2 separate regions of the Homo sapiens genome follow, and region 1 is linked to region 2. The links come from fine-mapping of genetic effects on plasma protein levels. A gene starts in region 2. The other region holds a variant in brackets. All regions are shown on one strand. Distances are from middle to middle.

Region 1 (14,570 bases), 62 kb before region 2:
CATTTACTTTAGAAAACTTGCAATTATAATTTCTTTCTCTATCCCTTTGTGAAGTAAATCTTCTACAACCCAGGAGCATCTTTCTCCAAAGCCTAAGAACCATGCCTTAGAAATGTAATCACCAAGAAAAATTGCACCTTTATTTCTTTGTATCTGTGGGAAAGGAGAAGCCTAACTTCAGTAGGTGCCAATTAGCAAACACAGATAGCCTGATCCCATTTACCGATCTCACCTCTAGTGTCTTTCAGTACTTACTAACTCACCTCAATGCTTAAAATTCTCCTGTCTGTTTCAGTGTGATTGAGTTCAATTTCTCCTCCATTGTGATAGTCTTGATCTCTTTTGCAATTGTCTTGAATAAAGTCTTCCTTGCCTAACTTGTCCAGTGTAACTTTTCTTACATTATAATGGTTATTATACGGAGAAAGAAGCATGGGTTCTCCTGGTTGTTTCAGCTGTATAACTTTAGTCAATATCCACTGGAGAGAATTTCAATAAAAGAAAACTATTTCTTTATGGGTTAAAAGGGATGGGCATGGGGGGCAAAATAAGAAGCACTGTGGTTCAATTACAGCGTTCTCATTTCTTCTGAAATCCTCTAGTTGAGTATTGTAATTTAAATGGAACAACTTATCTCCCTAAAAGACTGATTTTGAAAGACTATTTCCCTTTCCCTGTTAACTGCTCCCAACCCAACAGCCATCATCATTTTTAAAGGAATTCTAAGGGCAAAGAAACTAAGAATCTAAGAGAATGTAATACAATTGATGACCCAAAGAAAAGCAGCACATATTAAATTGTGACTTAAATGCTATTCAAAACATAAAATCGTGCCATTGTAGTATGTGTTTGCCTGTGTGTCTGTGCCTTTATTTCTCAATGATGAATTATATTTCAATGAAAAAGAATAATGCCTTCCAAGTAATAGTATCGTTATATAAGAGACAATTATGCCACTAAATTTAGATAATTTAGAAATAGTCTTAAGGAGAGAAACAAAAATTAAAAAGTATTGAAATACAAAGTAAGGAACTGAGATTATTGTTTTTCTCAATGAAGATAATATTTACTTTTGCTTTAAGATCTAGATATGACAAATGTTTTCTGGTTAACAATTTATCCAAAAAGAAAAAAGAATGTCAACCTTTTTTTTTTCTCTATTCCAGAGAGCTCCAGAAGGTTTTTAGATTTAAAAAAGAAAACAAAAAACAATAATAATACTCAAATGTCATATTGGAAGCCTTAGGCAAGAGCTGTTGGTCTTTTAATTTGCTCTTAATACTATGATCAAATAAAAAGAAGGAAAATTTTACAAATCATTAACAGCTTCGAGGATGAGGGAAGAACAGATTTTCAAGCATTCTTCTTTATTTAGTCAGAAATGACTGGCTCAACCTCAGCCTACTTCTCTGAGGCACATTCCTACCAACTCTTGCATATTAAATTTTGCCAGAGCAATGGGCCTGACATGGCCTTTTGAATCACAGTGAATCACAGTGACCCTTATCCAACTGAATGTCTCCTCCAATCATGTTTAATGTACATCAAGCATTCTACAGTGCCAAGATGAAGACCTGCATTGTTTTTTTAAAACCCACATTACCTTGTCATTGTGTAAGAGAAAGATATATTTAGGATTGAAGGGTGCTTCTTATTAGACCCATTCAGGAAGAAAGTAAGTCTAGAGGAGCCAAGCTCAAAACATACTCTTCACCATACACAATCAAATTCCTCTCAGAAATAATGTTCTTCTTCTCCATCTATATTTTGGAAAATTACATGAAAATCAGTAGATACTTGTAATGCAATCAGTGCTGAATTATTACTCAACAAGCTGAGTCTTCGAGGGCACCAGCAAAACAGCAGGAATGACTAAGAAAAGTTTAACTTTGATGAATTTATGTAGCGTCTTGAAATAAAATGTAAAAATGAAGCCATTTTCATTTCAGTATTCAGAGTTTTATAACATTTTGAAAAAGTAAATTTTCTTTTGAAGATTTTATAAATTACACATGGGGTTGTTATTACAATCTCTTCAGTGTTCAAGGTTTCTAAAATTCTCAATTCAGCCCTGGATACAAAAACTCTAAACACAGAGGGTTAAGGTATTAAAGATGAAAGCTAGTACCCTTACAACTATTTATATTGCAAAAGCTTTGCCCTCCTGCAAGAACATGCAGTTTCCCAAACAGTAACCTCTCTTTACAAGGTTATGCTTATTAGCTGGGATTCGAAGCTCAATAGCAACACTGTTCATCCATGGTTCAATTCAGATTGTAATTTCTTTTTAAACTACCTGACCCTTATAATCATATGGTGAGTTGGTCTGATCATTCATCTTCTCGAGGCCAAGTACTTGGTCTGAACACAGAGTCACTTGTGTTTCTGAAGCCTCTCTGCATCAAGATGATTGGGGTGAAAAACTGTCAATTGAAAAAAGTTTGAAAGAAACCTTTTATACAATGTTTTCATTGTCTTGTTCTTTTTCTGGAACCACAATTTCTGATTGGGAAAACAAAAGTCTTCCTAGATACAAGAATGAGGTTTTAAGAGATAATCTTTGTTTCTAATTAAGTGTGGAAGCTATCAACTATCGCATTGTCCCCAATGTCAGAATGTGCTGAATAAGATTTTGCTTTTTCTCAGGGCCCAGCATTTATTAAGCACTCAGCAAATGCTTACTAAATGAATGAATGACTCTACCCAAGCTTGTGTCTTTGTCTCGAAGCTGTATCTTCCATCACAGTATTAAAATGTTTTTTATGAACATGAGCATCTGGCTGCACATACAGAGCAGCACATTCCACACACTGCCCTAATTGGATCACCAATTGGAGGAAAGTAAGTCACAAGCTGATTGCCTAGAGTGGGTTTTTCCCCATCTCTGAACCAATCTCTGAGGCAAAAAGAATGCTATTAGGCTGACTGATTTATGTAAAGCAGTGCCTATCATTTCTGCAGTTAGGATGGAGTCAATTCCATCCAAAGCCAATAGAAGAGAGACAGTACTCTAAAAGAAGGCCTAGGAGCCATGAATAACTGCCGAGGGTACCATAGACACTGGGTTGGACAAGCAAGAAATAGTGACGATGTGACTTCTATTTTTATGATGGCTCAGCGGAAAATTAGTAAATACAACCAGTGTGTTAGAAATAATTCCGTATCTCCTAAGATACATTGGTTAAAAAGATACTAATAAGTTTTTGTGCGTGTAACATTTGACACCAGGCTTTTAAGTAAAACACCCTAAGATGGAACTTACTGTGTAGTGGAAAGAGTTAGACTCACTAGACATTGATTAGCTGACTGACATAGAGCGTTTCTTATCAGTCAACAAAACTATTTCCAGAGAGGCTTGAAATAAAACAGTTGACTTTATGTAGATTATGGTTAATATCTTTTGCAGATTTTCTAAGAAATCTTTCCCTATCAGAGGTCCCCAAAACATTCCTTTATCATTTTCCTTCTAAATCTTTTATACATGCTTAAGAAATATGCACATGCTCTAAATTGGGGGAACATGATCCTTTATGTATTAATTGAATCAACTTTGGTTACCATGTTGTTCTATTTACTTTTTTGCTGCTCGAGCTAAAAATTGAGTGACTTCAAATACAACATAATAGTTTTTTTTTCCGTTTTGCCCTCTACATTTTTACTTTAATAACTTTGTTTAGAACTGTTATACCTACTTCAGTTGAAATTTTTATTATTTTTGAGAGTCTCCTTATCCTTATTAATGCTTTTCACTTTAATATTTGTAAGGCTAATACTGATACAGCTATCCTAACCAGGTATATTTGCTTGTTTTATTTTCCCTAATTCTACTTTTTGTCTTTCTCTGTCCTTGTACTGTCTTTTGTAAACTGTATATATTGAACAAGGTAGACTTTTTTTTTTATTAATCTGGTGAGATAGGCAATTTATATTTATTGTAACCATTTATTATATACTATGCCATTTCTTTGCTTTTTCTATGCTTTTTCTTCCTTCTTGCATTTTTGTGGTCTATCAAAGTTGGGATTTCTAAAGTGTTTTTCCCTTATTTCAGAATGTTTCCTCTCTACTGGTTTGAAAGTTATATTGTATTGCTATTCTTTAAAGGTTATCTGAAAATTTTCTGTTAAGTACTTAGATTAACAACATCTAAAGTCATTCATTATCTTAACTTCCATCCTAAAGAGTATCAGGATCTTGGAGCACTCACACTAACTTCTAAGTGCTCCCGGACACTTTCCCCACATATACATTTCCTGAGTTATGTAAAATGTTGCTAGTATTTTAATTACGCTCTTTTTTACTCCACAGAGTAAATACTTCTTAATATAGACAGTATTTATTTACATTTCCCATGATTACTGATTTTTTAGCTCACCATACCTTCTTGCATCTCAGACTTTCCTCCTAGTCATTTTGCTGTACTCTAAAATTCATCTTTATTCTTAAGTGAAAGTCCCTTGTTTGTAAATTCTCATTTTGAGAAAAAAGTGTTTTTAATATACCCTTGATTTTGAAAGATAATTTCACTGGGCACTCATTCTATTGAGTTATTCTCTCAGTACCTTAATGATGTTATTCCACTGTCTTTTGCCTTCCAGTTTTGGCACTGAAAAGTCTACTGTTGGCCAGGTGCAGTGGCTCATGCCTCTAATCCCAGCATTTTGGGAGGCCAAGGCAGGTAGATCACCTGAAGTCAGGAGTTCGAGAACAGCCTGGCCAACATGGCAAAATCACGTCTTTACTAAAAATACAAAAAAATTAGCCAGGTTGTGGTGGCGCACACCTGTACTCCCAGCTACTCGGGAGGCTGAGGCAGGAGAATCAATTGAACCCGGGAAATGGAGGTTGCAGTGAGCAGAAATCACACCACTGCACTCCATCATGGGTGACAGAGCAAGACTCTGTCTCAAAAAAAAAAAAAAAAAAAAAAGGTCTGTCAATTCGTTATTCCTTTAAAAGTGGATAAGTTATTCTGGCTGCTTTTAAGATATCTTTGCCTTTATTGTTCTGAAGTTTGAGTATAATGAATATACATTGGCTTCCTTTTCCTGGTTGATATACATTTTGCTTCTTGTATATGTGGATCCACTTTTTTTTTTTTTAGACAGGGTACAGTGGCACCATCATAGCTCACTGCAGCCTTGAACTCCTGGGCTCGTGTGATCCTCCCTCCTCAGCCTCTTGAGTAGCTGGGACCACAGGTGTGTGCCACCATGCCTGGCTAATTTTTGTATTTTTTGTACAGATGGAGTTTCACCATGTTGCTCAGGCTGGTCTTAAACTCTTGGGCTCAAGTGATCCTCCCACTTGAGCCTCCCAAGTAGCTGGGACTACTGGTTCATGTCACCACATCTGGCTAATTCTTAATTTTTTTTGTAGAGATGGAGTGGGGGCTCTTGCTTCATTTCCCAGGTTGATCTCAAACTCCTGGCTTCAAGTGATCCTTCTGCTTTGGCCTCCCAAAATGCTGTGATTACAGGCATAAGCCACCATACCAGGTCCCAGGCTTTTCTTAGCTCTGGAAATTTGTCAGCAATTACCTCAATTTTTTTCTATTTTTTACTTCTTAGACTCCAATCAGCACATATTAAACCTTCCCATTCTATCCTTCAGGTCTCATAATCTCTAATTCTTATTTTCTATCCCTTTACCTGTTTTTGCTGCAATATGTTGTTTCCTCAGTTAAAACTTGATAGTCAACAATTCCTTTAGTTGTGGTGAATCTGCTCTTAAACCATTCATTATGTTATATATTTCAATAATTAAATTTCATACCTAAGTTGTCTTTGGTTCTTTTTAATATCTGCCTTTTAACACATCTCTCATTTCATGTTCGTTTTAATTCATACATTATTTAAACATATAACTGTTATTCTACTTCTGCTAATTGCAATACCTGAATTCCTTGAATATCTAAATCTACTGTTTCTCAATGCAAATGGTGTGTTTCCTTGCATGTTTGATTAATCTAGAAGCATTAATTAGGGAGGCTTTCCTTCGGAGGGGATTTTCATCCACTTCTTAGAGTAACCACCAGAGTCCACTGACTTAGGACTACTTTAATGCTTTAAAGCATTCCTGGTTTTATGAAGGAATCTTAGGTTCACTTTCTTTACTTTGCCTGGAGTCCATGGCTTAAGTCTCAGAGGCACAGTTTTCCTGTTTCTCAACTACTTTAATTTTAGCCCACTCTCATTGGTAATAGCCTTTAGTGATTATCTTTCTTTCTAATGAGCCAGGAAATGAACTAATATTATGTGTGTTGTATTTTATCCAAGAACTAACTGTATTTTAGCAGGAGGATCCTTGAGTATACCTAGTCAACCATATGGCAGGAAGCAGAAATCATCTACTTCGTAGTTGATTTTGGTAATTTGCATTTTTCATATAAATTATTCATTTTCTGTTTTGTGATATATTGGCATAAAGTTGTTTATAGTGTCTTATTATTTTAAAATCTATGTTTGGTTATTTATCTGTACTTTCATTCCTAAATTTTTTATGTCTTCTGTTTTTTTCCAAATCGGTTTCACCAAGTTATGTGTACTTTATTTATTTAAAGAGACCAACTTTTGTTTAAATTGATCCTCTCAAAAAAAAAAAAATTGATACTCTCTTCTATAGTATAGGTTTATACTCCAGGGGTCAACCAACATTTTCGGTAAAGGGCCAGAAATTTTAAAATTGAAAAATGCAGGAATCAATATGAAACACTTAATTGATAGGCTCAATAGCAGAATGGAAGCTACTGCAGAAAGAATGAATAAATCTGAAGATAAAATGATAGAAATTACACAGTCTGAACAACAGAAGAAAACAGGCAGAACAAAGATGAACAGAACCTCAGGGACTTACGGAACTACAATAAATCTAACATTTGTGTCATCAGAGTCTCAAAAGAAAGAAGAAAGAAGGAAGACTGAAAAAGTTCTTGAAAAAAATGACAGCTGAAAACTCCCCAAAATTGGCAAAAGACATAAACATATAGATGGTGAGAAGACCTCAAATATAATAAACCCCCCAAATCTACAAGATACATCATGGTTAAACAACTAAAAACTAAACACAAAGGAAAAAAAGAAAAAGAAAAAAGACAAATGACACCTATCTATAGGGACCAAAACAATTTAAAAAACTGGATTTCTCATGGGGAACCATGAAATTTTCTTTCCTTTTTTTTTTTTTTGACAAGGAGTCTCGTTCTGTTGCTCAGACTGGAGTACAGTGGTGCGATCTCAGCTCACTGTAATCTCCGCCTACGGGTTCAAGTGATTCTCCTGCCTCAGCTTCCCAAATGGCTGGGATTACAGATGTGCACCACCATGCCGGCTAATTTTTGTATTTTTAGTAGAGGCGGGGTTTCGCCATGTTAGCCAGGCTGGTCTCAAACTCCTGACCTCAAGTGATCTGCCCGCCTTGGCTTCCCAAAGTGCTGGGCTTACAGGCGTGAGCCACCCCTCTTGGCTGGAAGTGGCAGAACAATTTTCAAGTGCTGAAAGAAAAGAACTATAAACCTACAAGTCTATGTCTAATGTAAATATTCTTCAGATATCAAGGGAAAATCAAGACATTTTCAGATGAAAGAAAACTGAGAGAATTTGTTGCCAATGGAACTACAATAATAATAATAAGGCTAAAGGAGTGCTCTAAACAGAAAGGAAATGATAAATGAAGGAGTTTTGGAATATCAGACATCAAAAGTCTAACAAAAAATACAACCAAAAACTCTACATATAAATCTGAGAGCTTAGATGAAATGGACTAATTCATCTAAAAATACAAACTGTCACAACTCAATATGAAATAGATAAATTAAACAGCCATATAACTATTGTAAAAGTGGAAATTACAATAAAAAGAACTCCCTCCCCCAAAATCTCCAGGCCCAGATGATTTCATTGGAAAGTTCTATCAAATGTTTTAAAAAGCGCTGACACCAATTCTATACAATCCGCTTTAGAAAACAGAAGAGAAAGGAATACTTTCCAGTTCATTTTGAAGCTAGTATTACCCTGATACCACCAACCAGTATGTCGCATTAAAACAGATGCAAAAATCCTTAACAAAATATTAGCCAAAAGAATTAAGCTATATATACAAAGATACACCACGACCAAGTGGAGTTTATCTCAGGGATGTAACAATGGCTCAACATTCAAAAATCAATCAATGTATCTACCACATGAATGGGCTAAAGAAGAAAAATGGCATTATGTAAATTAAGGCAGAAAAAGCATTTGACAAAATTCAACATAAAATTCATAATAAAAACTTGCAGAAAAAAAGGAATAAAAGATAACTTCCTTAACTTTAGCAAGAGCATCTACTTTAAAAACCTACAGCTAACATTATACTTCATGGTGAAACACTGAATCCTTTCTGCCTAAGACCAGAAACAAGCCAAGGATCTCTACTCTCACTGCTTTTATTTCTGCTGGAATTTCTACCCACTGCATTAAGGGACTGAAAGGAAAAAAAAAAGGAATATAGGTCAGAAATGAAGAGATAAAACTATTCATTATTTGCAGATGACATGACTATCTATATAAAAAAAAAATCCCAAGGAATCAATCAAAATCCCCTAAAATGAGTAAGTGGGCTCAATAAGGTCTCAGTATACAAAATAGAAAAATTCACTTTATTTCTATGTACTTAGAATAGACATGTGAACAGGAAATTCAAAATACAATGCCATTTACAATCTCTCTCAAAAATTAAATTGCTTAGGTATAAATCTAACAAAACATGTACAGACCTTGTATGCTGAAAACCACACAATACTGATGAAGGAAAACAAAATTTAACTGAAATGAAGTGAAGTGATCCTGTGATCATGATCGGGAAGGCTTAACATGGTAAAGATGTCAAATCTCCCCAAATTGATGTATAGGTATAACATAGTTCCTGTCAAAATCCCAGTAAGATATTTGAATAGATACAGACAAGATTATTCCAAAGTTTATACGGGAAGACAAAGGAACTAAGTGGCTAAAACAATTTTGAAAAAGAAAGTGGAATAAACCAGCCTATTTGATTTCAAGACTTACTACAGTAATCAAGATTTTGGTGTTGGTGGAGGTATAGACACATAGTCTAATGGAAAAGAATAGAAAACCCAGATATAGACCCACACGAATGTGCCCAACTGATTTCTCATTAACTCATTTTTGCTCAACTGATTTTTGACAGAGGTGCAAAAACAATTCAATGGACAAAAAAGAGCCTTTTCGACAAATATCATGTTGGAGTAATTGAATATCCATAGGCAACAACAAAAAAAATGAACCCAGACCTAAGTCTCACATTTTATACAAAATTAACTGAAAATGGAATATAGACTTAAAAGTAAAACGTAAACTATAATACTTTTAGAAAACAACATAAAAGAGAAAATTTGGGGGATCTAAGGAGAGAGGCAAAGTTCTTGATACCAGAAGCATGATCCATAAAAAGAAAAATGGATAGAGTGGACTTCATCAAAATTAAACACTTCTGCTCTGTGAAAGGCCCAGAAAAGAGAAATGAAAAGACATGCTACTGACTGGGAGGAAATATTTGCAAATCACACATCCAACAAAGGACTAGTATCTAGAAAAAAATACACACACACACACACAGAGGCACACACACACATTATTTAAAAGCCCTCAAAACTCAACAGAAAAAAAATCCAATTAGAAAAGACATGAAGAAACATGTCACTAAAGAAGAGATACAGGTGGCAAATAAGCATATGAAACAAAGATGCTCAACATCATTGCCATTAGCGAAGGGAAAATGGTAAATCAAAACTGCAATGAGCTGTCACTATACACTTATCAGAATGACTAAAATAAAAAAGAGACACCACCAAATGCTGAAAAGGACATGAAGCAACTAGATCACTCATACACCACTGGTGGGTATATAAAATAGTACAGCTACTTGGTATAAGTTTGGCAATTTCTTAAAAACTAAACATTCAACTACTATATGACCCAACTACTATATAACTGCTGGGCATTTGACCCAGAAAACTAGATTATGTTCACACAAAAACTTGTACACAAATGTTTATAGCAACTTTATTTATAGTAGCCAAAAACTGGCCCAATGTCTCTCAGCAGGTGAACAGTTAAACAAACTGTGGTACATCTATACTATGGGATTCTATTCACACTAAAAAGTACCTGTCAATAGACTTGATACACATAATAAGCTGGATTAACCTCCAGAAAATCATGCTAAATGAAAAAAAGCCAATCCCAAAAGGTTACATATTATTATGATTCCAGTTATACAGCTTTATTGAAATGAAAAAAAAAAAAACTATAAAAATGGAGAACAGATTATGGTTGCCAAGGGTTAAGAAGGGAGTAGGGATGGGAGTGAAGTGGGTATGGTCATCAAAAGCAAGATGAGGGATCCCTGTGCTAGAAAAAGTTCTGTGTGGAAACGTTCTCTATCTTAGCTATACCAGTGTCAGTATCCTGGGTATGATATTGTATGACAGTTTTGAAAGATGTTCACTGTGTGGGAAACAAAGTGAAAGGTACACGAAAGAGGTCTCTGTATTATTTCTTACAACAGCATGTGAATCTAGTTTCTCAAAAGTTTAGTTAAAAATACTAGCATTAAACATATTTTATACTTTATAAAGAATGGGCTCTATTTCAAATGTCCATACCATTCCAAAGGAAAGTATTGGTCACATACTCCATTCTAGATTTAAAGAAAATTTAAAACAACATAGAAAATTTCTAAATGACTAAGAAAAATGTTTGACCACAGATCAGGAAAAGACATAAGGACAATAGGGTAGCCCTAATTTTGAACAAAAAATGTTTGTTTATTGCCTCCAAGATAGAACATGAATTTCTTGAACAAGAAATGTTTATTGCCTCCAAGATAGAACTAACGTGAATGATATATAACTAAGGTTATCTTACTATTAGCAAATTTTGGTATATACCCACTGCAAAATAGTACTTAAATGTTAAAACTATGATAACCTTTATGAGGCTGAACATTAAATCTGGCCCTGGGAAGAGGTTGGATGTGGCCTGAGGCACATTGAAAATGCCTCGAAATGAACTCAAAACGACCACAGTACCTAGGTTTGAGATAAGAATGAAATAAAATATATTCCCCATTAAAATCTTGCTTATTTTTAGAATCATTACTGACAGAAGGATCAGCTTTGATCTGAGAGCTTTTCACCGTCAAGTTTTTAGCTATACAAGTTATTAAAAAAGCAAAAGCTTGCATCTTACTTGGATTAAAAACCTAATTTCTAGAAAACAGGTTCTCTTCTTTCTGGTCTGAGTTTAACATTTCAGATCTCCCATTAAACAACTGATCAAAAAACTTTCAGAGGGCATTAAAAAGTGAAACTAGGTATCAGAAAAATCTTAGTCGAGGCTAAATAACTGCATTTATAAGCTTTCTACCAATGCTATTAGGTGTTGGAGTTAGTAACTACTGCCTAACGATACTTACAGTAAACACTTAAAAATTTGTACTTTGGGTTGGCCAAAGTGGGAATTAATGCCCTTTCAAGTTTATTTAAAGATTCAATTCAGTTCTAGAAAACTCCCTCGTCAACAAGTAGAGGTGTTGTGCGTGTAACGACTGGACAGGAAATCTGGTTTTGCCTTCCACCACTTACATTTTAAGCATAAATGCCATCACTACACAAAACCTACGGGAATCCCACTCTAAGCAATTAAGTGACCAACCTCTTAAAAACTTGCCAGAAGCTACAGTGTCTACAAAAACCTATTTAGTGTGTTATTTAGCTCTATTTCTGCATTTAAAATTAGGATTATTTGGAGAAAAATATTACATAATATTCATGTTAACCAAATGATTACAAAAACAAAGAATTAAAATTGGTGTATTGATATGGTATTTGAATAATGAGAAAATGGGCCAATAGGAAGATTTTCTTCTTTATTCCTATTTGATTTAAAAGAAAAAGATTTGCCAAGGGATGGGTAGGGTTAAATTAAAAACATTTTAAGAAACATTTCTTTATATGGAGCATACTTACTGTTTTTGCTTTGAGTGCATTCTGATGAAATATAGATTCCAAATTCCCCTTGGATCTCACCCTTCTGTCTAGTGCTTTGCCCTCTATTTGGGGCAGTAATTCTATACATATCCTGTAAATGTCTGTCCTGATGATCAGGATGCCCAAGCTCTGAATCCAACTGCTGCCACCAAGAGAACGGCTCCTTTTTGGAGCCATTACACACAGATCATCACTCAAATCAGTAGTTTCTCTTTAGAAAACTAGCAATTTTCTGGTAGTCTGTCAATTAAGAAAAGAAAATGAAATTCAGTTACTTAGTAAGGAAAACTGGATAAACAGGAGGCTGGTCCAAACGGAGATTTATATTTAGACATTCCCTTTCTTCCTTGCCTCATTCCTTTCACACAGCTATTTCCCTTCTTTTAACACACCAAGTTCTTTTTATATGCCAAATAACAAAACATAAACTCCCTGAGGGCAGGAAGCTTATTCTTTTGGTTCACTCTTAGAACACTATGCCCAGGCATGTAGTAGCCTGGCAAAAAGCCGGCCCCAAATAAGTGCCAAATTAAGTATTTATTAAGCAACTACTACGGGAGGGAAGGAAGAAGGGAAGGAAGGAAGGAAACTGTGTTAAGTCCTGGGGCCCCAGAAGCTTAGTATATGTATTTTTTATTTTGGTTGGAAAAAAATGACTTGCTTACCATCTAGAGCCAATGCTTCTAAATTTTTCCATCAAAGAATCTTTAATGAAAGTGAGGAAAATTCTGAGGCTTCCACTTCACGTGGTTTGAACTGTACATCTCAGTGTTTGTTTCACAATTATGCTAGACTGTCAACTCACTTCTCTTTCTAGAATGTCCTCTGCAGTGCAGGTAGACCAGAAACCACACTTCCCACAAACTCCTTCTGTCTCTGGTTCTAAGTTGAGAGTTGACCATGAGAAAAGGAGAGACCATCTTTCCTCAGAGGCCACTGCAGACAGAAGTGTAGGCGGGCAGAGGACATGAGTTTCACAGCAGTTTCAAAATCTCTTGCAAGGCACTGGCTTTGGAGCTATTAACAGCTGACAGCTGGGGACAGCTCCCTGAGACACACTGTCAGTGCTGCACGCCAACAGCACAGCCTTCTGGATGTTCTCAAGAGTCACAGCAGTGCCTGGGCCAGCTCCTGAGATCCACCCACTTTGGGGCCGCAGACACCTTCCTCACCCACCCTTTTGATGTCTAATTCCCTATGTTAAAACACTTTACACTTATAATCCATCAAGTGGTTTCTGTTTTTCTAACTGAATTGTTAAAATATGCAAAATTCACATTAAAGAAGTTTCCTACCTATCTTGTGACCTCAGTGAATGAGATGCTGCTTTATCCAATCTACTGACTTTGGAAAATCCAGCTGAAATGAGGAAAGATAATCGTGCATGTCTGGCAACCAGGTAATTTCTTTCCTATCT[T/C]TCATGTCACAGTATTTTGAGGACACAAATTCCTAAATACTCAGAAAAAAATGGTTTTATCTTAATTGATTTATAAATTATGTTAGGGTAGTTGTTAAACAGAATTTTGTCAAAGAAGCAGTACACTGTAACACTTTCAGGCTCCCATTGGTTTAAAATTTGATAAGTGTATTTCTTTGCTGACAAGTCAAACTGTTCAAATGTTATGGAGGACTAAAAAGGCCTGGGATTCACAGGCTCATTTTTTGTTTTAACTGAATCATGAAAATACACAACTTTTTTTTTTCCAGGAAAGACAGATGTTATTTACCACCAATGAATTTTTATCATATTTAAATGAACTTGAAAATGTCATTCAACTCAAATCCCTCAATCAACTTACTTCAGCCCATTCTGAAACTTCATATTGCAGCAAACCAGCCATGTGAAAGAAATAAATTCAATTTTGACTTTCAAAAAAAATAAATGCTGCATAAGTTACCCTTGTGGACCTTAGCTATTAAGGTGGACAATGACTTTATTTTCTTTACGTAAGTTTTATATTTTATTATGACATTCATTTTTTCTACATGAAGACACAAATAAAAATTATACCAACTACATAAACTATTTTGTACTTTCCTTGCTAAACCACAGATGTATTTCATGGAAAGAGGGGCCTTTAAAGGCACTTATTTATCATTGTAGGTGTGTCTAAACAATTGATATTCAAAAACACAACTTTTTGTGTACAAAATTTTACAATTTTTAACAAAAGCAGTGAAGACACTAAATAACCCAGTGGCGACCTCTTCAAAGTGCAGTGTCCTTGGTCACCAATGCAGATGCTACTGGGGCAGCCAGCGGGCTCAGAGGGTCCAACTCCAGACACTGCATCCATGGCTGTCCTAGACTGAGTTGCACTTGTAAAAGAGATGGTCCCACACCTACTAAAAAAACAAGCTACTCTAGTATCAATATGACATCACTCTTTTACCATCAATCATATTGCAAAACCATAGTATTTAACGACCAATAAACAGCCAAATACCTAATGCCACATTGTCGTTCAATTTACCTGGCTGGTTAATATCAGTCTGTGTTTGAGTATTTCTTTTGAGC
Region 2 (15,262 bases):
CTCACCAAATCCTAGAGATGGATCCAAAAGCAATTTCATTAAAGGGTAAATTCAAACCTAAAGTCAGACAGCTGGACCACTACAGTGGGGAGACAGGAATAAACTTCCTTCCAGGTAGCCTTGGACTTGGGCCCAGACAGAACAAGAGTAGACATGGGGATTCAATGACACCAACACCATCCGGAACATCCTTGAAACCATGCAATTTTAAATGCATCTCCAAGTCACTTAAAAAAAAAAAAAAAAAAAAAAAAACACAGGTTTTGAATAGCCAAAGCAATTTTAAGAAAAAGAACAAAGCTGGAGGCATCTCATTGCCTGACCTCAAATTATACTAAAAGGGTATAGTAACTAAAACAGCATGATATTCATATAAAAACAGACACATAGAACAATGGAATGGAATAGAGAAGTCAGAAGTAAAGTCACATATCTACAGTCAATTGATCTTTTTGACAAAGTTGACAAAAACATACACTGAGGAAAGGACGCCCTTTTCAATACATGGTGCTGGGAAAATTGGATCGCCCCATGCGGAAGAGTGAAACTGGACCCTTATCTGTCAACATATAAAAAAAAAAATCGACTCAAGATGGATTAAAGACTTAAAAGTAATACCTAAAACGATTAAAATACTAAAAGAAAATATAGGGAAAACTCTTCTGGACATTGGTTTAGGAAAAGAATTTATGACTAAGACCTCAAAAGCACAGGCAACAAGACAAAAAACAGACAAAATGAGATTTAATTAAACTAAAAAGCTTTTGCACAGCAAAAGAAATAATAAACAGAATGAACAGACAACCTGCAGAATGGGAGAAAAATATCTGCAAACTACACATCCAACGAGATTAATATCCAGAATTTACAAGAAACTCAAACAACTCAACAAAAAACCCCACAAATAACCCCATTAAAAAGGGGGCAAAGCACATGAATAGACATTTTTCAAAAGAAGACATACAAATGGCCAAGAAGCACATGAAAAATGTTTAACATCAGTAAGCACCAGATAAATGCAAATTAATACCACAATGAGACATCATCTCACAACAGTCAGAATGGCTATTAAAAATTCATCCACAAACACATCTTGAACGGAAAAAAAAGAAAAAAAGTCAAACAAGTACAGATGTTGGCAAGAATGCAGAGAAACAGGAACACACACACTGTTGGTGAGACTGTAAAGTAGTACAACCTCTACAGAAAACAGCATGGCAAGTCATCAAAGAACTAAAAATAGAATTAATATTTGATCCAGTAACCTCGTTACTGGGTATCTACCCAAAAGAAAAAAAAAACCATTATACCAAAAAGATAATCTGCACTCATATGTCTATTGTAGCAATATTCACAAGAACAAAGATTTGGAATTAACCTAAGTGCCCATCAAGTGTCTATTAACATTCCTGAATGGATAAAGAAAATGTAGTGTATATAAATGCAATGGAATACTATTCAACCTTAAAAAAGACTGAAGTTATGTCTTTCACAGCAACACAGATGAACTGGAGGCCATTATCTTAAGTGAAATGACTCAGAAAAAAGTCAAATGCTGCATGTTCTCACTTGTAAGTGGAACCTAAATAATGTGTACACATGGACAGAGAGTGGAATAAGAAGACATTGGAGACTCAAAAGGATGGGAGGGTGAGGGATGAGAAATTACTTAATGCGTACAATGTACATTATTCAGGTGATGATTACACTAAAAGCCCAGACTTCACGCTATGCAATATAACCATGTAACAAAACTGCATGTGCACCCCTTAAATTTATATAAATAAAATGGCTTTATTGAGATATAATTTATTGAGATATGGCAATACAATACACCTACTTGAAGTACACAAGCCAATGGTTTTTAATATATTTACAACATTGTACAATCATCACTTTTAGAACATTTCTATTACGCTAAAAGGAAAGTTTGTAATCATTAGCAATCGCTCTCCATTTCTCCCCAACCTCACTGGCCAAAGGTGACTACTAATCTACTTTGTATCTTTATAGCTTTGCTATTCTGGACATTTCATAGGAATGGAATCATACAATGTGTTCTTCGAGACTAGCTTCTTTCTCTTAGTATGCTTCCAAAGTCCATCTGTGCTGTATCATATATCAGTCCTTCATTCCTTCATTATTGCCAAATAATATTCCTTCATTATTGCCAAATAATATTCCAAGGTATGGAGAAAGACAATTTTCTCTTGGTTCAATGACATCTTCCTTTCTCCTTTCCCTCTATCAAGTAGATCTCTGGAAAAACTGGCTTACAAGCCAAAACAAACACATTGAATGAAAAAATGTTCAGTTTGTTATTCATGTAATCTCTGGGGATGCTCCTCCATATACATGGTTCCATTTTAATCTATACCTGAATGAGTCGCACATCCATGTCTCCAGCTCGTACCCTTGGCTTTCTCTCGTGTCTACATGTCTGTGAAGCTACAAGAACTCAGCCATTGCCTGTGCGGCACACCATGGAAGTAGCAACTGGAAATTTCTACTTTGGGCAAGACACTTAGCATTTGGGCCCACTGCCAGAATCAAAATGAGATAATGCACATCCAGAGAACAAATGCTTTTCCACCCTACACAGAGGAAAGTTATGATCTGTTCTTGCAGCTGCAGGACCAGCATCAGCACAAGACCAAGAGAAACTCATCACCTGTCTCAAAACCATGCAAGCACACCTGAGGCCTACTCTCTCTCCCATAAAGAGTTCCATCAAGTCAAGGACAGTATTCTACAGCATTTTCCTTACCCTTAAAACTCACACCAGTGTAGCCCAAGTCTTCTCACTGTTTTCTTTCAAGGCCACCTTTTTTCCTCTCTGGAAAATCAATCACTTAGTCACAAACACAATCAATTTTCTTCATCCCTTTCCTCAAGCTACTAAATGTGAGAAAGTTCCTGCTGGTGAGACAATTGGCAAGTGGCTTCATTCACCCAAAGAGGTGCTACTTAGATTGACTGGAATTATGAGTTTTGTTTTACTTTTTCTTTGTTTGGCGTTGTTGTTGTTTGAGACAGGAGCACCCAGGCTGGAGTGCAGTGGTGTGATTACGACTCACTGCAGCCCTGACTTCCAGGCTCAGGCAATCCTCCCATCTCAGCATCCCGAGTAGCTGGGTCCACAGGCACCTGCCACCACATCCCACTAATTTTTTGATTTTTTTATAGAGATGGGGGTCTCACTTTGTTGCCCAGACTGGTCTTGAACTCCTGGGCTCATGCGATCCTCCAGTCTCAGCCTCCCAAAGTGCTGGGATTACAGGTTTGAGCCACTGTATCTAGCCAGGAATCATGTGTGAAGAATGAAAAGCAATTTGCAAAAGATAGAGAAGAAAGATGTGTAAAATAAAACAAAGTTAACAATGGCCAACACTCATCCAGGACTTACATTTCCTAAGCATTGTGCTTATGACTTTTAAATTTATTTTCTCAGTTAATTCTTATAAGCCTATCATGTGGGTATAATTGCTAATGTGATTTTTTTACATGAAGAAACTGAGGCATATCATTATGCCTCATTATCATTATAAGCAAAGGAGCAAATATTTGAAAATAACCACAGAGCCGACATTTTTTAAACACTAAGCCATACTGCTTCCTTGTATAACAAAATTGAGGGCAGGTGAACTCAGTTAGAAAAACCAAATTTGGGCTGGGCGCGGTGGCTCACGCCTGTAATCCCGGAACTTTGGAAGGCCAAGACAGGCAGATGACAAGGTCAAGAGATTGAGACCATCCTGGCCAACATGGTGAAATCTCATCTCTACTAAAAAAATTAACTGGGTGTGGTGGCATGCGCCTGTAGTGCCAGCTACTCAGGAGGCTGAGGCAGGACAATCGCTTGAACCCAGGAGGCGGAGGTTGCAGTGAGCCAAGATCACGCCACTGCACTCCAGCCCGGCGACAGAGCGAGACTCGTCTCAAAATAACATAACATAACATAACATAACATAACATAACATAACATAACATAACATAACATAACATAAAATAAAAAAAGACAAAAGAAAAACCAAATTTACCACTTTTCTGCATGCCCCATATGAAGTTTTGCTATTCCCACTCCTAAGATGAAGGAATATGTTTGGGATAACTACATGAGTTGATCAAGGTAACACAGAGGAATAGCTTACTCCTTTTCTCTATTATTCTGCTAATAAGTGGTATCTAAAAGGCAACAACAGTTGGCTCTTTTGATAATGAGACACACAAAGGAAAGGAACCAAATGGTTGTCTTTAAAAAATATATATACAAGCATAGACAGACAGGATAGGTAACTACAAATTGATTAAAAGCTTATGATCTCTGCATATAGGCTAAATGGATGCTGAGTTATTCAGATGTCTGCTTTCCACATCAGTCTCCATTACCTAGCCCAGAGCTGCTACGCACTAAAGTACTCTTGTTGAATACTTTTGAAAGCCCACTCAGAATTCCTATTTAATTGCTCAGAATAATAATTATATAATTCATTACCTAGACCTGTACTAACAGACTAGCCACTAACTAAATGGGCTGTTAAAATTATAGTGGTTACTAGAAGCAGAGAAGGATGGCGGGAAGGGGATAGCCAAAGGTTGGTTAACTAACACCAAAATACAGCTAGGTAGGAGGAATGAAGTCTAGTGTTCTATACCCCTAAAAGGTGACTACAATTAATTACAATTTATTGCATATTTTCAAATACTTAGAAGAAAGAATGAATTGTGAATGCTCTTAACACAAAGAAATGTTAAATGTTTGAGGTAATGGATATGCTAATTACCCTGATTTGATCATTACACATTGTACACATCTACTGATGTATCACATGTATCCACAAATATGTAAATCATTATCTGTCGATTAAAATAATAAAAGCAAAAAAATCTTATTACAGGTTATTTTAAGCTGCTAACAAGATAACTGATTGCAGTAAGAAACTACACTTTTACTCTACATTTCATTTTTTCATGTGACAATTTACACCATTTTATATTGTGTATCACTTAAATTACATTGTAGCTCTCGTTTTTAAAAAATTAAAATTAATTAAAATTAAGTTAAATGAAAAAAATCAGTTCCTCAGTCACACTAGACACCTTTCAAATGTTCAAAAATTCTGTGTGGCTAGTGGCCAGCAGCTTGGACAGCTCATTCATAGACCACTTCCATTATCACAGAAAGATCTATTGCACAGTGCTAATCTCCACATTGCAATAATCATCTTTCTATGAAGATATACAAACACTATAAAGAGAAAAACAGGAAGGGAGAATCAAAGTGCAACACTCAGATGAGAGTCTTCTCAAGACGGCTTCTAAAGAACACAAAGGAATGAACAAAAGGAATGTTAAAATTTAATCTTGAAGTGTCAAACACTACTCCCAGTTAAAATCCGATATACTGTAGAATCCTTAAGATTTCCATTTAGCATATATCTCATGCTCTATAAATCTACCCTGGGCAAAGAAGTAGTCAATTTCACTTTCTTAATCATTAGCATCAGCATAAACAACTGGACTTCTCTATACCCTCTACCCCAAGTAAGTTCTGAGGGGTGGGGGGTGAGCATTTTTTTGTCTGTTTTGTGGACTGCACTATTCTCACTGCCTGGCTACATCACAAGTGCTTAACAAACATTTGTAGAATGAATGAATGTACCCACCTCCTAAGAACACACACCCAGCGTGAGGGTAAATATTACCATTTCCAAAACATAAAATTCCAGTGCCTTCTTTCAGATACCGAAGGTCCCAGGCTTCTTGCTGCCTTGGGCCTTTGCTGGGTGCCATTTCCTATTTCTAGAAGGCTCTTCCCATGATCTCCACGTGACTGGCTCCTTCTCCCCAGCAAGGCCTCATCACATGCTAGAGAAACCTTTGTGACCACTCTGATATGAAAGTGAGAACTCACCACTGGTCACTCTTTGTCAATCTAACTTACTGCTTCACAATACTCAAAAGTCGAATTAATCACTGTTTATTATTTATCCCTACACCTCTGGAATACAAACAGGAGCTACTTCTGGAATATAAACAGGAGAGAGATGACCTTGTCATCCTGTGTAATCTACAGTGCCTGGTGCATAGTAAATGCTCAAGGAATGTGAGGGTGCTCTGTCTACATAAGTATCCTCTGCAAAAACTACATTAACTGTATTCTTTGGCCTTAGCTCTTTCATCACTGACCTTTTGTACTACTTGGTTTTAGTTCACAATACCGAGGATTGTTTTTTTCATACTTTCACACATGAAACTTGCAAATTAAATGGAATCACAGCAAACTTCACTCAGACTTACTGTGAATATTTTCTATAATTTACTTTTCAATCATCAGCACTTAAAGTTTGGGGTCATAACCAAAATAAGGATTGATTTTGTTATCAAGAGCAACATAAGTAACATATCTGAGGAAAAATTATGATGTTAATCAGTTAATATGGTATCATATTAACCTCTACAGAAACTGTGAAGTTAAGAGCATAATTCTTAACTAGTCACGAGTCTGAGGCCAACTTCTCAAAGTAGCCTATAAGGCCTGTCCACAACACAAAACACAGTTTAACACCGTTATCAGCCTCTGCCCAGGTGTGCTCAGAGAACCTGCAGAAGAAATGTCCACTTCCAACATTATTAAATAGCACAGCATTTCATAATTACTTTCTTTTCTTCCAGATTCTGGGCAAGTTTTATATATTATATATAATTATAGTCAGAATACAACGATCTGAGGTAAACAAAAATTAACGTATACAGATAAGAGCCAAACAAATGTAAGAAATTTGTGGGAAAAAACACACAGCATTTGATCAGAAATGCAACTTTTTTTCTTTGTCTGAATTTAAAGAAAGTAACTAGAAAACAAGGTGGAGGAAATACTAGAAATATTTTATGTACGTTTAAAGGTTTTTATGTAAATTAATTAAAGGTGTATACTCAAAGAATGTCAAAGTATGTTAAAGTCATCAAGCCAAATTAAAAAAACAATACTACGATCCTCTGAATAAATAAACATACACGGTTCGCCTGCTACAGCCATACATTTTTCAGTTCCTCTATATTCGGGAAGTTTAGTGTGTTTTTCAATCCGTGAGTTGAAAAGAGGAAGAGGTCATTTGGTCGTGTCTGGATTCCTGAGCTGGGCCCCAGCCGGCTCTGGCGCCCTCCCCGGGGTGCGCTCCGCCAGCCGTGCGCCTCCGGAGCTCTGCCCAGGGGACCGCGGCGGGTGCGTGGCTGGGTAGGCCCACCTGACCACAGCCGCGCGCACCCGGAATGCGGAACGCGCCGCGCCCTTGCACCCGGCCGGGGGGCGTGGGGAGCCGCAGGCGCTCCGGGAGCTGGGGCAGTCCCGCCCTTCCTAGCCTCCCGAGTGCCTGCTGCAGAGCGCAGGGCGGCGGCCACCTGACCACGCGCACAAACAAGAAGGCGCAGCAGCCGCAGGGGCACCGCGCCTCCCTGTCGCCCGGCCAGGGAGCCCCCTCCCCAGGGTCCTCTTACCTGGACCTCCACGGCTCCCTCCTACACCTCCGACCGCCGTCACCCACCTACCCCGGAGCCCTCAGCTGCAATTCTCAGCTGATGGGCGGTGGCGTGGGGACGCCCAGTGCGCATGCCCGCAGCACAACTCAGGAAGAAGGCGGGGTTCACCCCTTTTCTATTGGCCCGCGGGGCTGAGTGACAGCGGCCCTCACCGCCCCTCCGGTTCCAAGCTAAGGAATGGGGGTATCAGCAAAATTGCAAGGGAGCTGTTCTTTGAAGCCTGACGTAGAGATGGTGAACGCCTCTTAGCCTGCGTGCAAAAAAGGACAGAATGGAGGACAGTTGTCTTCTTTATCTGGTGAAGCCAGCCTTCTTGCACGCGGGTCTTCACCCCGCCCCATTAGCTCTTGCCTGTCTTGTTTGCTAACCTTTAACTGCAGTAGATCGCGTTGACAGCTCTATCGAAAAATGCAAAGGCGAGTACACAATCCTAGCAGGAACAATGAAGGAATAAGTGAAGAGTCATCTCTGGGTGCTCACTTGTAAACAAGTTTTCCTAGTACATACAAGTCATTCTAAGCATTCCTGAAAAGCAGGGCGTAGTTTTCACAGGGTTTAAAACAAGCAGAGACAGTTCCAATGATAAATATGCAAATATATTGTAATTGTTAGATGAAAAGCATCAATTGCTACAAATGAAAGAAAGCCCTCTCCAAATTAATTAGAAGATAGATTGGCTTAGCCTTTGCCTATATTAAGGCAACACTATTTTCTAAAATGATTACCCGGATAGGTGATATCAAAAGTCCAGACGCACTTAGGTGGAAAAAAACAAAACCCAGGATAGAATTCTGATTGGAACTCACCAACACTAAGTGTGGAATGTTGTCTGCTTAAGAGAGATGGACAGAGAAAGAATAACCCTGAAAACGAGTAACCCACAAGATAGGAAATAAACCAGGAAAAGGTAAACTAGAGAATGAAGGAAAAAAGGAGGGAATTGTCCATGATGTCACCTGTTACACAAAGTTCAAGTAAATAAAGAACTGAAAGTAGTGCATTGTACTTGAGAATTAGGAAGTGGCTGGTGAACGTAGGAAGAAACATTTCAATCATTGAAGGAACACATGAAAGGATCTTACATCCATGTGAGGTTTAGTGCACTTTCCAAATACCCATTCATATTACCTTTGATAGAACTCTGGGCTCCGGGGAGGGAAGGTACAATGCACTACAGAAGAACCTGAGATTAAGTGGCCTCTTCAAGTTACCCTGATAGTTACTGACTATGCTGGGCCCAAAACTTAGCTGTCTGAGCCCTCATCTTGGGCTCATTCCAATTCCTTGTTTTAAAATATGTTATGAGTGGATTCCTTCCAGGTCTTTTGAAAACTTAGAATAAGATTTCATCCTTTGGTATTCAAATGGGAAAAAAAAGAATTATAGTCTAGACAAACTTGCAAAATTTAGAAGTATTAAGATAAATGAATTACTAAGAGTTCCTGACACAGTATTCCATCTGTGAATCTGGCTGCTACCAAGTTAAATTCAGCCAGGTGTCTTGAAAGTGGTAGGGCTTTAAAAGTCTCCTAATTTGATGAGTGATAATGTCACATCTCCCAAAATAAATCATTTCCATGTGCAGAAGTTACCTATGACTGAAAGCTTGTAATTTGGATTTTCAGAAATAGTAATTTGCGAGATTTGGGCCTTCTTGGAGAGATTTTGAAGGAAACCAGAAGTTGTTGAGTGGGGAATGTTATCTGCACACTTGTGGTGTCCTTATTAATATAAATACCATAAATACCTCCTATGTAACATCTCTCATGTAGGATGGAGAACTGTCCACTGCTGTATCTCCAGTGTCTGGGATAGCAATTCCAGGGAATAGAAGGAGATAATTGCTGGTTCATTTAATAGTTACTGAACTAAAAATATTTTTTACATGACCACTATGTGATCTTCTGGGAAAGCCAAAGAAGTAAAAGACGCATAAAGGTAAATAGAGCAAACAGGGACTTATTGGTAAGTGAGAAGGACAAGTTGACTTATGAAGGTTTGTTTTTATTTATAATACAGTGGGAAAACCACAACTGGTTTAAAAAATCTATGCTAGATTAAAAGGAAGCTTAAATTAATACTTAATAAACAAGAGTTAGTTCAGTTGTGCCTTATTGTTAAGCACCTTCCATGTCTCTCTACAGTCTACTTGTTTTCTGTTTAAGATCACACAAGTGCCTAGTCATATATCAAGCACAGAATTGATTTTGCCCTAGCTTTTGAACATGGAGGTAATAAACAGATATCCCGTGGAAATCTTACATGGGCCATTATAGCATGATGACCGGTATATTTGTTTCTAATTTTACCTCCTGATGACTGGTATTTTCGTTTCTAATTTTACCTCCTAAGTGTTGTTCATATGTGCCCTCTTCTCTCTGTCCCTCACGGTTGACATCCTGATCCACTGCAATAGCCTCCTTGTTGGATCTTCTATCTCCAGGTCTTCTCAACTTTATTATTGTCAAAGCCACCACTGAATATTTGAAGCTCTAATCTGAGAACTTTGCTCCAGGCTTCATGCCATTTCCATGATTGCAGCATTCCCTGAACTGTATTTCTTAAGAAAAAAAACCAAAATAATTAGATTGGGGAGAGCTGGGGAATTGTGTGGGTTGAAATAAGGAATCAGGGAATTGGTCTACAAAGAAATGTTTGGGAAACATATTATATTGCATTCTTGAAGATTCACAGAGCATATTTGTAAATTAAAGACGCTGAGAAGTGGTTCAGGAAAGAAACAAGTAAAAATTTCTTTTACCCAGTATTTTATGAGTGTATTTGATGGTGGAACTTGCCTGTAAAACTTTTAAATATGCATAATGGAAAACACTGCTCTCAAAATCAAGTCCAAGCCCCCTGCATATACACAGGGTGACCATATATTTAGTTTGCTAGGACAGCCCTAGTTTATGCTTGTTGTCCTGGCCGCCTGTCTTCTGAGCATGCCCTTTCATTCTCAAACGTGCTTCAGTTCAGATGATGCATCATATGGTCCCTATACATATAAGGACCACATGGTCTGATCCTGCCTTTCCAAGCATCAAAATTTATGCTTGGAATATGTTGGCTTAAATAACTCCTCTTTCTCTGTCTGCTCTCCCCTCCATCCCAGCAGCTAGCTCCCCAGTCACAAACCAGGGGTTTTCTTATTTCTGTGCTTCGCTCACGTAGTTCCCATTAGCTAGAAAACATTTTTTCTTCTCCCCCATGTTTTAAACGATTCTTTATTTTGGAATAATTTTAGATTTATAGAAGAGCTGCAAAGATAGTACAGCACTCCTGTATATACCTCACCCAGGTTCCCCTAATGTTTCCTTAATGTTAACATCTTACATAACCATGGTCCACTTGTCAAAACTAAGAAATCAGCATTGGTATAGCAGTACCAACTAAATTAGCTTGTATTCTCCCTGCTCCAGCTCTAGAATCAGTCATTTTACTATTAAGCACTTCTTCTTTTTATTGGAAAAAGCTATTTAGAAATCAAAGGCCAGGACCACCAGGCACAGTAGCATGGCTCACACCTGTAAACCCAGCACTTTGGAAGGCGAAGGCAGGCAGATCATTTGAGCCCAGAAGTTCGAGGCCAGCCTAGGCAATGGGGCAAAACCCTGTTGTGATGGTTAATACTGAGTGTCAACTTGATTGGATTGAAGGATGCAAAGTATTGATCTTGGGTGTGTCTGTGAAGATGTCGCCAACAGAGATTAACATTTGAGTCAGTGGGCTGGAGAACACAGGCCCACCCTTAATCTGGTGGGCACCATCTAATCAGCTGCCAGCAAATATAAAGCAGGCAGAAAAATGTGAAAAGGCTAGACTAGCCTAGCCTCCCACCCTATATCTTTCTCCCGTGCTGAACGCTTCCTGCCCCTGAGCATCCAAGTTCTTCAGTTTTGGAACTCGGACTGGCTCTCCTTGCTCCTTAGCCTGCAGACAGCCTATGGGACCTTGTGATCATGTGAGTTCATACTTAATAAACTCATATATATATATATATATATATATATATATATATATATATATATATATATGTATTCCATTAATTCTGTTCCACTAGAGAACCTTGGCTATTACACCCATCTCTACAAAAATTAGCTGGGTGTGGTGATGTGCACAGTAGCTATAGTCCCAGCTACTCAGGAGGCTGAGGTGGGAGGATTGCCTGAGCCCAAGAGGTCAAGGCTGCAGTGAGCCAAGATCATGCCACTGCACTGCAGTGTGGACAACAGAGTGAGACCCTGTCCCCCACCCTACCAAAAAGAAGAAAAGAAAAGAAATCAAGATCAAGGCACTAACCTTCTCATTGTTACTAGGGTGTCAGTGCTTCTACGCTCCCCTCAATGGACAGAGCTAGGAAATAAATTTATATATACTAATTCATGTATGTAGGATATTTACTCCAGGCTTCATGCCATCCCCATGTTGGCTGCATGCCCCAAAATATATTTGGTAAAAATAAAAGTGCTTGGACTGGGCAGAGGTGGGGTTTGTGTGAGTTGGGGTAAGGAATCAGGGAATTGATCCATAGAGAAATGTATACAGTATACATTATATGCAGTATAAGCCTTGTATAAAGTATGTCTATAAATTTAATTTTACAAGAAACTGCCAAGTTGTTTTCCAGTTGTTTTACATATCCATAGCTATATCAGATTTTATCTATATATATAAACACGAGTTCATCTAGGCATTCCCAATTCTAATCCAACATTATAGGGGTCATTCTAGCCTTCCCTTGTCCTAATTTTTAGCTTCTTTCGCTAGAAGTGAGAAACCTAGCTTCCATTATCTACCATTTATGTTCTTATTTCTATAATGTAAAAAATTAGGTTGGTGCAAAGGTAATTGTGGTTTTTGCCATTAAACCGCAATTACCTTTGCACCAACCTAATAGCTTCAGAATTGCTAACTCCTACTCTGTGTGAGAAAAAAATCTTTAGTGCAGTGTTTATGTACAATTCTTTTTGTCTTTAGCCTTATAATATTGAGTCAAAACAATGTTTTCTAAAAATCACCAAGGTCGGCTCTTTACCCATCCCCTTCAGTGAAATTAGGTTATGTTGACTTTGCAGTTAAATTCAGTTGTCATAGATCTGCATTTTATCCTATGATCCACAAATATACTGATTGATTTTTTAAATTTGTATAAAGCTCATTGTTTGTGGTATATAGTTCTGTGGATTTTTGACAGATATATAGAGTAATGTATCCATAACTCCAATACCATAGAGAACAGTTCTACCATACTGAAAATTCCCTTTCACAACAACCCTTATTCAACCCATCCCCCTCCTCCCACCCTTGGCAACCACTTATGTTTTCTATCACCAGAGTTTTGCCTTTTCCAGAATGTCCTATAAATTCAATCATACAATATATAACCTTTTGGGTCTGATTTCTTTCACTTAGCAGAATGCATTTAAGATACATCCACATTGTTGTATAAATCTATAGTTTGTTTTTTTTTGTGGCTGAATAATATTCCATTGTTTGGATATAACACAGCTTATTTATCCATTCACCTGTTGGTTGTTTCCAATTTTTGGCAATTATGAATAAAACTTCTATAAATACTTAAATACAGATTTTGGTAAAAATAGAAGTTTTCAATCATTTGAGTGAATATCTAGAAGTAGGTCTGTTGGACTGTATAAGTGTATATTTATTCATTTATTTTTGCTTTAAATATTGCTCCGGGGGAGGGGCCACCACACGTCTACTCAATGAAGAGAAATGTTTTTACAATTTACAGGTATTTTTTTTACACCTATTATGGCATGAATTCATAGGAAATAAGTTCTAGCAGCCTCCTTCTTATTGGTTCTCACACAGTGTGCTTCTCTGGATGGAGCAGGCTGCTGCTTTAATTGAACTCAGGTGACTTTCTCCTTGAGATCCTTTTCTGATCGTTTTCCTTCACGTGTTTGAGGAAGCTGTCTCGGCACTTAGAGTACTTAATATGCTCAATATGCACATCAATTATCTTGGCAAGAATCATGCCGTTAACTTGTTTGTTTACAACAGTGCCAACAGTATGCTGGGTTACATTGTAGACTCTTCCAGTTTTTCCATGGTGATAGTTGTGGGGCATTCATTTTTGAACAGCACCCAACCTCTTGATGACTACGGTATAACCTTTCTTGTAGATTCGCATGTATGTGACCAAAGGAACAACTCCATGTTTTCTAAAAGGCCTAGAGAACATGTATCAGGTGCCTCTCCTCTTTCCCTTTGTGTTAATCATTTTGGCAAATTACTGGAAGATGGCAATTCTGGCTCTACATTTAATTTTACAAAATACTTCCAAATTGTTTTCCAAGGTGGCTGTATCATTTTGCATTCCCATCAGCAATGATTGAGGATTTCTGTTACTCTACTTCTTTGTCACTTTTTGATATTGTTGAATTGAAAAACATTTTTTTTTCATTCTCATGGGTGTGTAGTGGCATGTCATTGTGATTTTATGTATGCTTATTTGAAATCCATCTGTCTTCTTTAGTGAAATGTTAATTCAAATCTTTTGCCTGCTTTTTATTGGGTTGTCTTCCCACTGTTGAGTTTTAAGAATTATTTTTGTATTCTGGTACTTTATCAAATATATCATTTACATGTATTTTCTCCTAGTCTGTAGCTCTGTAGCTTATCTTCTCATTCTCTTCTTTTAAAATTTTTTAAATTTTCTTTCAGAAAAGATCTGGGATCTGGCTATGTTGCCCAGACTAGAATGCAGGGGCTATACATAGGCCTGATTGTTGGACATACAACTTTTTAAACTTCTGGGCTCAAGCAATCCTTTCTTCTCAGCCTCCCAAGTAGCTAGAACTATATGCACATGCCACCACACCCAGCTCATTCTCTTAATGGTGTCTTTCATGGAGAAATAAGTCTTTAATTTTGATAAATTTTAGGTTGCCATATTTTTGTTTTATAAATTATGCCTTTAGTGATTAATTTAAAAGCTCATCACCAAACCCAAAGTTATACAAATTTTTCCTATATTTTATTCTCAAAGGTTTATGGTTTTACATTTCACATACAGGTTTACAATTCATTTTGAGTTAATTTTTGTAGAATGTATCAGGTATCTGTTAAGGTTCATTTCATTTGTTTTTTTGCATATGAATGTCCAATTATTTCAGTACCTTTGTTGAAAAGTCTATCTTTTCTCCATTGAATTGCCTTTGCATTTTTGCCAAAACTCAGTTGACTATGTTTCTGTGAACCTCTCTCTATTTTTCATATTCTCTTCTATTAATCTATGCATATATTTTCTCCGACATCATGCTGTCTTGATTACTGAAGCTCTAGAGTAAGTTTTGAAATTGGATAATATGAGTCCTCTGACTTTTTTGTTTTCCGGAATTGTTTGATTATTTCAGTTTCTTGGCTTTTCTGTAGAAATTTTAGAAGCAGCTAGTCAATATCTACAAAATCATGCTGGAATTTGATTGGGATTGTTTTGACTTTACAGAACACATTGGGAAGAACTGACATCTTAATATTGAGATTTTCAATTCATAAACATAGTATATCTCCACATCTATTTGGATTTTCTTATATTGTTTTTCATCAGTGTTTTGTAACTTACAATATACAGATTCTGCACATATTTTGTGAGTCATACATAATTTATTCATTTGTTTGGGTACTATTATAATGTATTTTTAAATTTTAATTTTTACTTCTTCATTGCTGAAATATGGAAATATTATTGGTT

The links. PIP is the chance, under the fine-mapping model, that this variant and not a neighbour inherited with it causes the effect. Protein levels are from antibody-based Olink assays in UK Biobank. Linkage for the fine-mapping came from a reference panel and not from the study's own genotypes, which makes the PIPs less certain.
Region 1: its variant is fine-mapped to the plasma level of the STX7 protein (UK Biobank, PIP above 0.99).

The regions. Positions count from the first base shown.
Region 1 is chr6:132,443,930-132,458,499 of GRCh38, forward strand. It overlaps STX7 (syntaxin 7), which reads right to left. Exons shown (of 10, transcript NM_003569.3): 10 at 1,938-14,570. Among named protein-coding and RNA genes, the nearest start is that of MOXD1, 50 kb to the left of the region's middle. The variant T/C (reference allele first, on the strand shown) is at 13,470.
Region 2 is chr6:132,505,510-132,520,771 of GRCh38, forward strand. STX7 (syntaxin 7) reads right to left here and starts at 7,607. Exons shown (of 10, transcript NM_003569.3): 1 at 7,498-7,607. It also overlaps the pseudogene RPL21P66. RefSeq lists enhancers at 6,855-7,356, 7,714-7,913 and a silencer at 7,074-7,563.